Linked DNA regions of Homo sapiens. The protein of the gene in region 2 purifies or fractionates together with the protein of the main gene of each other region. This does not show direct contact. Each region holds a gene or a part of one and is shown on either strand. Other genes may lie near its edges.

Region 1 (3,816 bases), on a different chromosome or scaffold from region 2:
CTGCCTTTAAAATTCATATTTATACATTTTAAGACTGTCTCTTTCATTTCTTCTTATTTGCATATTTACTTCTCCTCTCATTAGTAAATTTTTAAAAAGTATAGAATTAGTGCCAAGAAAGTAAGTCTTTACCACTTGATTTTACACTTTTCTGACAGAAGTCAGATGAGAAACATTTAAACCCTACAACATCACAAAAGTTTTACTAACTTACACAATGACAAAGAGATGTTCACTTCAAATTAATACTTAATCTTTCTTAAACATATTATTGTATTAAAACATATACACACATTCTAGGTATAATCAGTGGGAACACATCACAAAAGCTTTAAAAGTTACAGCCATGCCACATGCAATTTTAAACCCCGCCATGCACCTTTCTCAGTATATTCCATGGAGGGCTACATTATTTTCAGAAATGGTGGAAGGAAAATCATAGAAATGCAAATATAAAACACAGAAAAATGGAATTTTTATTTAATAACCCCATCTTTTCAAAATAAAATTCGTATTTTCACTTACGCTCAGAGCATTGTGAAATAATGATTTGTTTCACTAGTTAGACATGTTTCTACGGAAGAACCTCACTATGGGAATGCTAATTAGTAGAGACTAGTCCATTTAAAACTTTCTTAATAATTTGAAATGTAAGTCACCATGGAATAATATAATACTGATTTCTCTGTGCTATAAATCTTCAGTTTAGTATCCTAAAGAGGTCCGGAAGCTGACAGAGAAAACAAGCAAAGCAGCACAGTGAAGCAGGGTCATGCTCCTCACCCACGCACCTGGAGGAACTACGCCAATACCATCATCAACCTCATAATCTGAGATGTCACTATCACTGATTCGCTGAGATCCTGCACAACAGTAAGGCAAAGAGATACTTCTGTGTCTGGTTGGTTTATGAAACGTAAAGAGCACTGTCAAACTTTTTTTAAAAAGTGAATTGCATTATTACTGAAAACTTATGAAGACTAATACAGTAAACACTGAGCTAATTTTAAAAGAAATGTTTGTTCTCTAAGGATAACATTTTATCAGTATTTTTTTCCTCATTACACCAAAGACATATAGAAACAAGGGGACTTCACAGAATAAGATTTTCAGATTAATTCTTTAATTAAAATATTATACTAAAAGCCTTCAGCACAGTATATACAGTACATTGTTTTCTACACAATTAAGTGCTTTCCTCTGCAGTTCAGAGAGAATAGGGCTGAGTGGAAAGGTTCAGAGACATTTCTTGGCTGGAGCTCTATTCAGCCTATATTAATGAAAAAACATCAGGGCCCTTTATAAAATATTTATGTTTAGCTCCCCAAATTAGTCATTATACTTCATTAAACATTAACTTTGAGGAAATTACTGATCAGGGAAGCATCAACATGAAATATTTAATTATGTGAGAAAAATAATTTAGTTCCAGATTACCAAAATGAGGCTTCTTTCAGCTGTTAACTTAGAAATGTAGTTATGACACAAAAATTACTCAATAAGTACAGAAAAAAATAGCTTTTCCCAATCACTAGATGAATAGCAATAAACATACCTTCTAATATTTTAAACAACATTTCTTATGAATAACTATTAAAATATCTATGAACTGGCTGGGCATGGTGGCTCACACCTGTAATCCCAGCACTTTGGGAGGCCGAGCCGGATGGATCACAAGGTCAGGAGTTCAAGATCAGGCTGGCCAAAATGGTGAAACCCCATCTCTACTAAATATACAAAAATAAATTAGCCAGGCATGGTGGCGCACTTCTGTAATCCTAGCTACTCCAGTGGCTGAGGCAGGAGAATTGCTTAAACCCGGGAGGTGCAGGTTGCAGTGAGCCGAGATCACGCCAATGCACTCCAGCCTGGGCAACAGAGTGAGACTCTCTCTCGGTGGGGGGAGAAAAAATCTTTGAACTATAAAGTTATTAAGACTTCACAGGTGGCAACTCACCAGTGATGACAGAAATTATTCCATCAGTCAATAACCAACAGCTCAATTGGCCCTGTGCAAGAATTTTAATTCAGAGGTTTTTGGCTTGCAGCTCTGCAATTACTCTGCTATGCTATCTACATTATTTTCATTGTGAAAATGTAGAAACAGTTTTGCCAAGTTGCTTCATAAAGATGAACAATTTTCCAGTATTTTGATCTCTAATAAAACATTTAAAAAAAACATCTTGAATTATTAATCACTAATTAGATCATTACAGCATAATTACTTTGTGGCAACTAAAAGGACCTTAACCTACTTTGTAGCTTTTTGCTAGAGCTTTCTCCATGAATATGTCGCCTTGGCATGAAAGGTGATGGCTGAGGCAGAGGTAGTGAAGACTCATCATGTGTCTGAAGTTTATACCAATGCGGTTCATCATCTAAAAGCGCTGTCTCCAATTCTATGAGGATCTGAGAGGGTAATTCTCAAATTAAATCAAGTACCTTTATCAAAACATAATGTAATAGTAATCATAATAAATATCACAAAACTTTATTAACTATTTGACTTGAGTTTTTAAAATATACATCACCTCTCCAAGAAATTCACTTTCTTCTTCTTGCACTCTTGGTTGGTCCCACACAGTTATTTCTAACATTCGTTCTCTAAAATCTCTACGATGTACATGTGAATAGACAAAAGTTTGATTCCATTTTGGTTCTAGTATTTTCTTTACTGTTTTGGTCCTCCTTTTACTTTTATCACTGAAAAATAAGTATGTTTTGTAAATGAAAAAGCAAGTACATGCTGCCATCTACTGTAGTTACATGTAAAACTGCCATTGATATTTATATTATTTTAACTAATAACTCATGGAAAGTCTATAAAAAGATAATAGAGTTTAATAATATTCTAACTTCAGTTACAATATAAGCAGTATTGTAATTATAGGGACACATACAAAGGTACATTCTAAATGATGTGTCGCTATCAAAGACTAATATACCTATAAACAAGGTAATAGATTTTTTTAATTGACAGATTATTTTCAAATATTTCCAACACAATTTCCAACACTTGAGGGACTTCTTTTTTCAGAGATAATGTACTTTTATCTCCTCAGAATTATCTATTATATTTTTTAAAAACATCCCAAAAGAGAAAATTCTACCTTTTCTATTAGTACAGATTTTAAGATTTTTTTTTTCTAAAATTATTCACTACCTTCTATCTGGAAGAAAATACATTTTTACATAGGGATTTCGAGGACGTCCATCTACTCTAGCAGGTAGATCTGTTGCTTGCAGAACATTTACAATCAGCTGGTGTCCCACTTTATCATACCACAACTTCACCTAGGAGCAATGAGGAAAGGAATTATTTGTAAAAATCATGAGGCATTACAATTTTACATAAAACAAAATTCAAGTTATATTTAAATGAGGAAATTTTGAATTACAATATAATGCAATTACAGATATTTCTAAAAACACACCAATTTGAAAGCATAAACACACAGAACTTTACTTTTCTCTTTGAGTACTTTAAACATAACCTACAACTGGCAGGCCTTCAGTGTTACTGTATATTCTCACATATCATTTTATAAAATAAAACTAATAATAATTTTTCCAAAAAACTAAGGGAAGAGGGAGACATAAAATCATTATTATTGTTCTTAAATGTTAAAAATAAGAGTTTGAAGATTATATGTGTCTAAATTATTATAGCGTGACTAAATGCTTTCTCTGGTGTCACAGGTAGTTAAAATTAAAAAAAACAAGAGTTTGGATATTAGGAATAAGAAATACAAAGAATTAGAAGAGATCATAAAACATATTTACTGTGGGCCTATTTTATACAGGCACCGTTTAGTA
Region 2 (3,816 bases):
AGGCTGGAGTGCAATGGCGCGATCTTGGCTCACTACAACCTCTGCCTCCCTGGTTCGAGTGATTCTCCTGCCTCAGCCTCCCGAATAGCTGGGATTACAGGCATGCACCACCATGCCTGGCTAATTTTGCATTTTTTGGAGAGGCGGGGTTTCACCATGTTGGTCAGGCTGGTCTGGAACTCCTGACCTCAGGTGATCTACCTGCCTCGGCCTCCCTAAGTGCTGGGATCACAGGCGTGAGCCACCACGCCCGGCCCAGGGGGTCTGGTTTTTTAGGGTAAGTAGGGTTTAGATAGGAACAGGTGCTGAGCCCGAAGTGTGAATGCAGTCACTTAAAAAACAACAGACTGTGAACAAAAACATGCATTTTGACACCTGCTTTACTTCAGGAATGGAGGTGGCAGATATAAGGGATGGGAGAGTTGAGAATTTTCAGCAAAGAGTGAGAATCTCAGGTAGGGGGGTGGTCGCGATGGTGGAGGCCGGCTGGTACTTGGGCCTTTCAGCTGGATCTGGTTTTCTAGATAAGAACTGGCCAAGTTGCCAGATCCAAGGCATTGGGCTGAGGCAACAGGAGGTTCTCAGGATGGGGATACCCAGCCCTGCCACCCTCATCCCCAGTCACACTGCATCTCACACCCTGAGGCCCACTCTACCACTTTCCTACAATCCAGCCTTTGCTGACAGTGCCCCCATATGTTCTTCCCTCACACTCCATCCTCACAGCTCAACTCTCCCCATCCACAGCAAGCCCGAGGTTGGCTAACTTCCCCTTCCCAACTAGCTGCTTTTCACATCTTTGCACCCCAGGGCAGGGGCTGGGTGAGCAGGCTTTGAAGGTCTTTTGGGGCCAGGGACAGTTGGGGCCTACCTCGAGCAGCAGGCTAGGAAGAGGGGGGCATTTGTTTTTGGAGTGTACAGGACACTCACTGACTTACGGGTCAGCACAACTCACCCACCTCCCATTGTCCACCCTCTCCCTGAAGACACCTCAAGCTGCCTGCTTTCCTTCTTGGTTCTTCCACAGCTCACCTGGTGGGCAGGTACGGGCCAGTTCTCTGCCTAGGCCAAGGGAGGAAGCAGCTCAAAGCCTGGTGGTGGAAATTGTGGGGCCTGCCTGTTGGTAAAAATTAAATGGAGAATCCAGAAGCCCTGGTTGCCTTCCCACCAGCTTAGTGTCCCGTCTTCCCGCCGGCCCCCACCTGGGACAGATGCCAGGGGCATTACTCACCTTTTCTCCTGCAGCCTTTCCACCCCCAGTGTTCTCTTCAAGACGGACTAGGAATGGGTCTGGGGAAGGCTAGGGAATGGGGTGCTATGGGACATGAATGTGCACACGTGTCTGCTTTTGTGTGCTGTGTTGGGGGGCAGGTACCTTCTGGGAGCTGGGATGGGGGTGGGGGTGCCAGAGAGACAGCGGAGCAGGTCTCTACAGAACCTGCCTAGCCAGGGTGGGTGGAGCTGGGTGGGGCAGGCAGGAGTGATTCCAGGTTTCAGAGGGGGAACAGAGTGTGGGTGTGTATGCGTATGGGTGGGTATTTTGGTGTGTTTGCGGATTTAGAGGTCCTCGGCCTCACCCCCAGCCTTAGACTGAGGGAAATTCAGGACGTAGGTGGAGAGGGGCTTGGCTCTGGCTTCCCCAACTGCTTTTGAGGTAGAATGCAAGCTCAGGTATCCTGGCCAGGAGCCCAGTCTGTGGGCCCTTCCCCTGCGGTGCACCCTGCACTGGGGTCTGCTGGTGAGAAGCTGCTCTGGAAGCCTAGATGCCTGGATGACACAAGCATGGCCAGGATCCCACCCCTCCTCTGCCACTCAGCCCAGTGAGGAGAAGGATCCTGCCCCCACCCTGGGGCTATGAGGATGGTGAGCTCATCTCTGGGGCTGTCCTGGGAGAATGCCTGGTTAACAGGGCGGGGGTGGGGCACCTGGTGCCAGCTCCTGGGCTCCCTGCTCTGCCCTTCCCACCCCTCAGCCCACCAAGATACAGCTGTTCTCTCTGGCCTCCTGGGCAGCACTGTCACCCAAGGACAGCCTTTTTCAGGGTTTAGGAATGAGGGTCAGGGCAAAATCTTCATCCTATTTTTGGTCCAGGGCTGGAGCTGGTCCTTGCCCACTCTGTACCTTAGTCTTTTCGGTGATAGCAAAAGCCCAGCCTCTCTGGATGGGTGGCTTGCCCATAGCCCAAGGCTGGATGGGGATGAAGGAACATCAAGGTTCTTAGTTGTGGTAGATGGATGGGTGCAGGAACCACCCCTTTTGGGGATAGAGGCTCTTTGGTTCTGGCTGTCTTAGCTGAGGCCTGTCTAGTCTCTGTCTCTTTGTCCCTGGTGAGAAGAGGGGGCAGGACGGAGTCAGCAAATCCTCTCCTGTCGTGGCCCTCTTGCAGTTGTGGCTACTCAAGGAACCAGTGTCCAGAGCAGTCTCATGGAGAAACCTGGTCTCACTCCAAGAGGAGCACTCCTCAAAGTCAGTGTTACTACGATTTTCCAACAATTAGAGGAGGCCAGAAATGGGCTGCCGTAGAAGTAGTGGCCATGGGCTAGTCACCTTCTCTCTCTGGGTCCCACTTTTTTATTTGTAAAATTTGAGGTTGTCCCTCTAAGGCCCCTTTCAGCTTGGTGCTGGGAACTGCTGAGAAGAGGGTGGTTCAGCCAGCTGTGTCCTCCTGAAGGGAAAAGGGAAAGGGAAAGGGAAAGGGGAAGGGGTGTCAGGGGAATGATATGGGCATAGTCAGAGGTTCAGGTACCTTCCTTCCGTCTGTGGAAGCTGTGTTGGATGTCTGCATTTTCAACCCACACCCATCAACTTCAGCCCCCCACCAGGGCCTGACAGCGCTGCCTGGGTTGAGCACATCTGTGAAACTCAGGGGAGGTGTGTGACAAGGAGGAAAACCAAGCAAGGCTCTGAAGTGCGACAGCTGTGTCTCGAGTCTCTGCTCTGCCTTGCACTGGCCTTAGGCCTTGGTGAGGTACTCTGACTGTACTCTGAGCTAGCACGGAGAGCTAGCTCCTGGGATCCTGGGCTGGGAGGTTGGACCCTGGGCTTAGTTCTTGCCACCTCCATGGCTGAAGGTGGGCTTCCAGCACTTTGAGTGGAACTTATATTGATATCCTTGGACCTTGGCACTATGGATGGTGATGATTAGGGAGCCAGGCAGCTAGGGGGTGCCCACATGCATACCCCTGCCCACGGGCTGCAGTGGGAAAGGGGTGCAAGGCATATGCAGGAAGACCCAGGCTCCTGAGTAGGAATCGGAGACCTTTAGTGGGCAGGGGCCCACAGACGACTCTTCAGGCAGGTTCTGAAGCAGTAATCACACCCATTTCCCTGTGTTCAGGCAGAACCACCCTTCCCTAGTCCCTGACTACGGAGAGAAAAATGGTCCTATCAGAGATCTCTGCCCCTGTCTGAGGAGAACTTGAGGCTTCTTGTCCTCTTTCCCATCGTCTTCCCGTCTGGCTGGAAGTCTTTTAAAAATCAAACCCAAGCACCCTTCTCAGCTGCTTCCAGCCCTGTCCTCGGTGGAGATGAGGAACACTAGGTGCCCTTTTTAGGTACATGTTTTGCTCTGTCCCTGCCCCCCTTTTCTTCCGTGGCCTACTCACCCTGGTTTCCACAGCTCTTTCTCCCAGCCCCGTCTGCATCTATGCTCTGTCTCATTACCTCACCCCAGGCCTAAAGTAGCCGGGACTGGGCTGCGGGGTGGGCCCGGGCTAGAGCAGTGGCAGGAGGTGGCGTCTGGAGCTGCCTGCGTCTGGTCATCGGCCCCCAGCACGCGCCACACATGGGGGTGCTGGCGTTTGTGTTCAACGCCTT

What was found.
Region 1: the proteins of VANGL2 (region 2) and RIMS1 purify together in Homo sapiens (co-immunoprecipitation; one large-scale study listed by IntAct). This does not show direct contact.

What each region holds. Positions count from the first base shown.
Region 1 is NC_000006.12:72,249,808-72,253,623, reverse strand, and holds part of RIMS1 (regulating synaptic membrane exocytosis protein 1), read right to left. Parts: intron 3,295-3,816; coding exon 3,164-3,294; intron 2,704-3,163; coding exon 2,532-2,703; intron 2,410-2,531; coding exon 2,256-2,409; intron 864-2,255; coding exon 792-863; intron 1-791. UniProt on the Homo sapiens protein: Rab effector involved in exocytosis. May act as scaffold protein that regulates neurotransmitter release at the active zone.
Region 2 is NC_000001.11:160,406,772-160,410,587, forward strand, and holds part of VANGL2 (vang-like protein 2), read left to right. Parts: intron 1-1,032; exon of another isoform or gene 1,033-1,117; intron 1,118-1,231; exon of another isoform or gene 1,232-1,484; intron 1,485-1,684; exon of another isoform or gene 1,685-1,863; intron 1,864-3,816. UniProt on the Homo sapiens protein: Involved in the control of early morphogenesis and patterning of both axial midline structures and the development of neural plate. Plays a role in the regulation of planar cell polarity, particularly in the orientation of stereociliary bundles in the cochlea.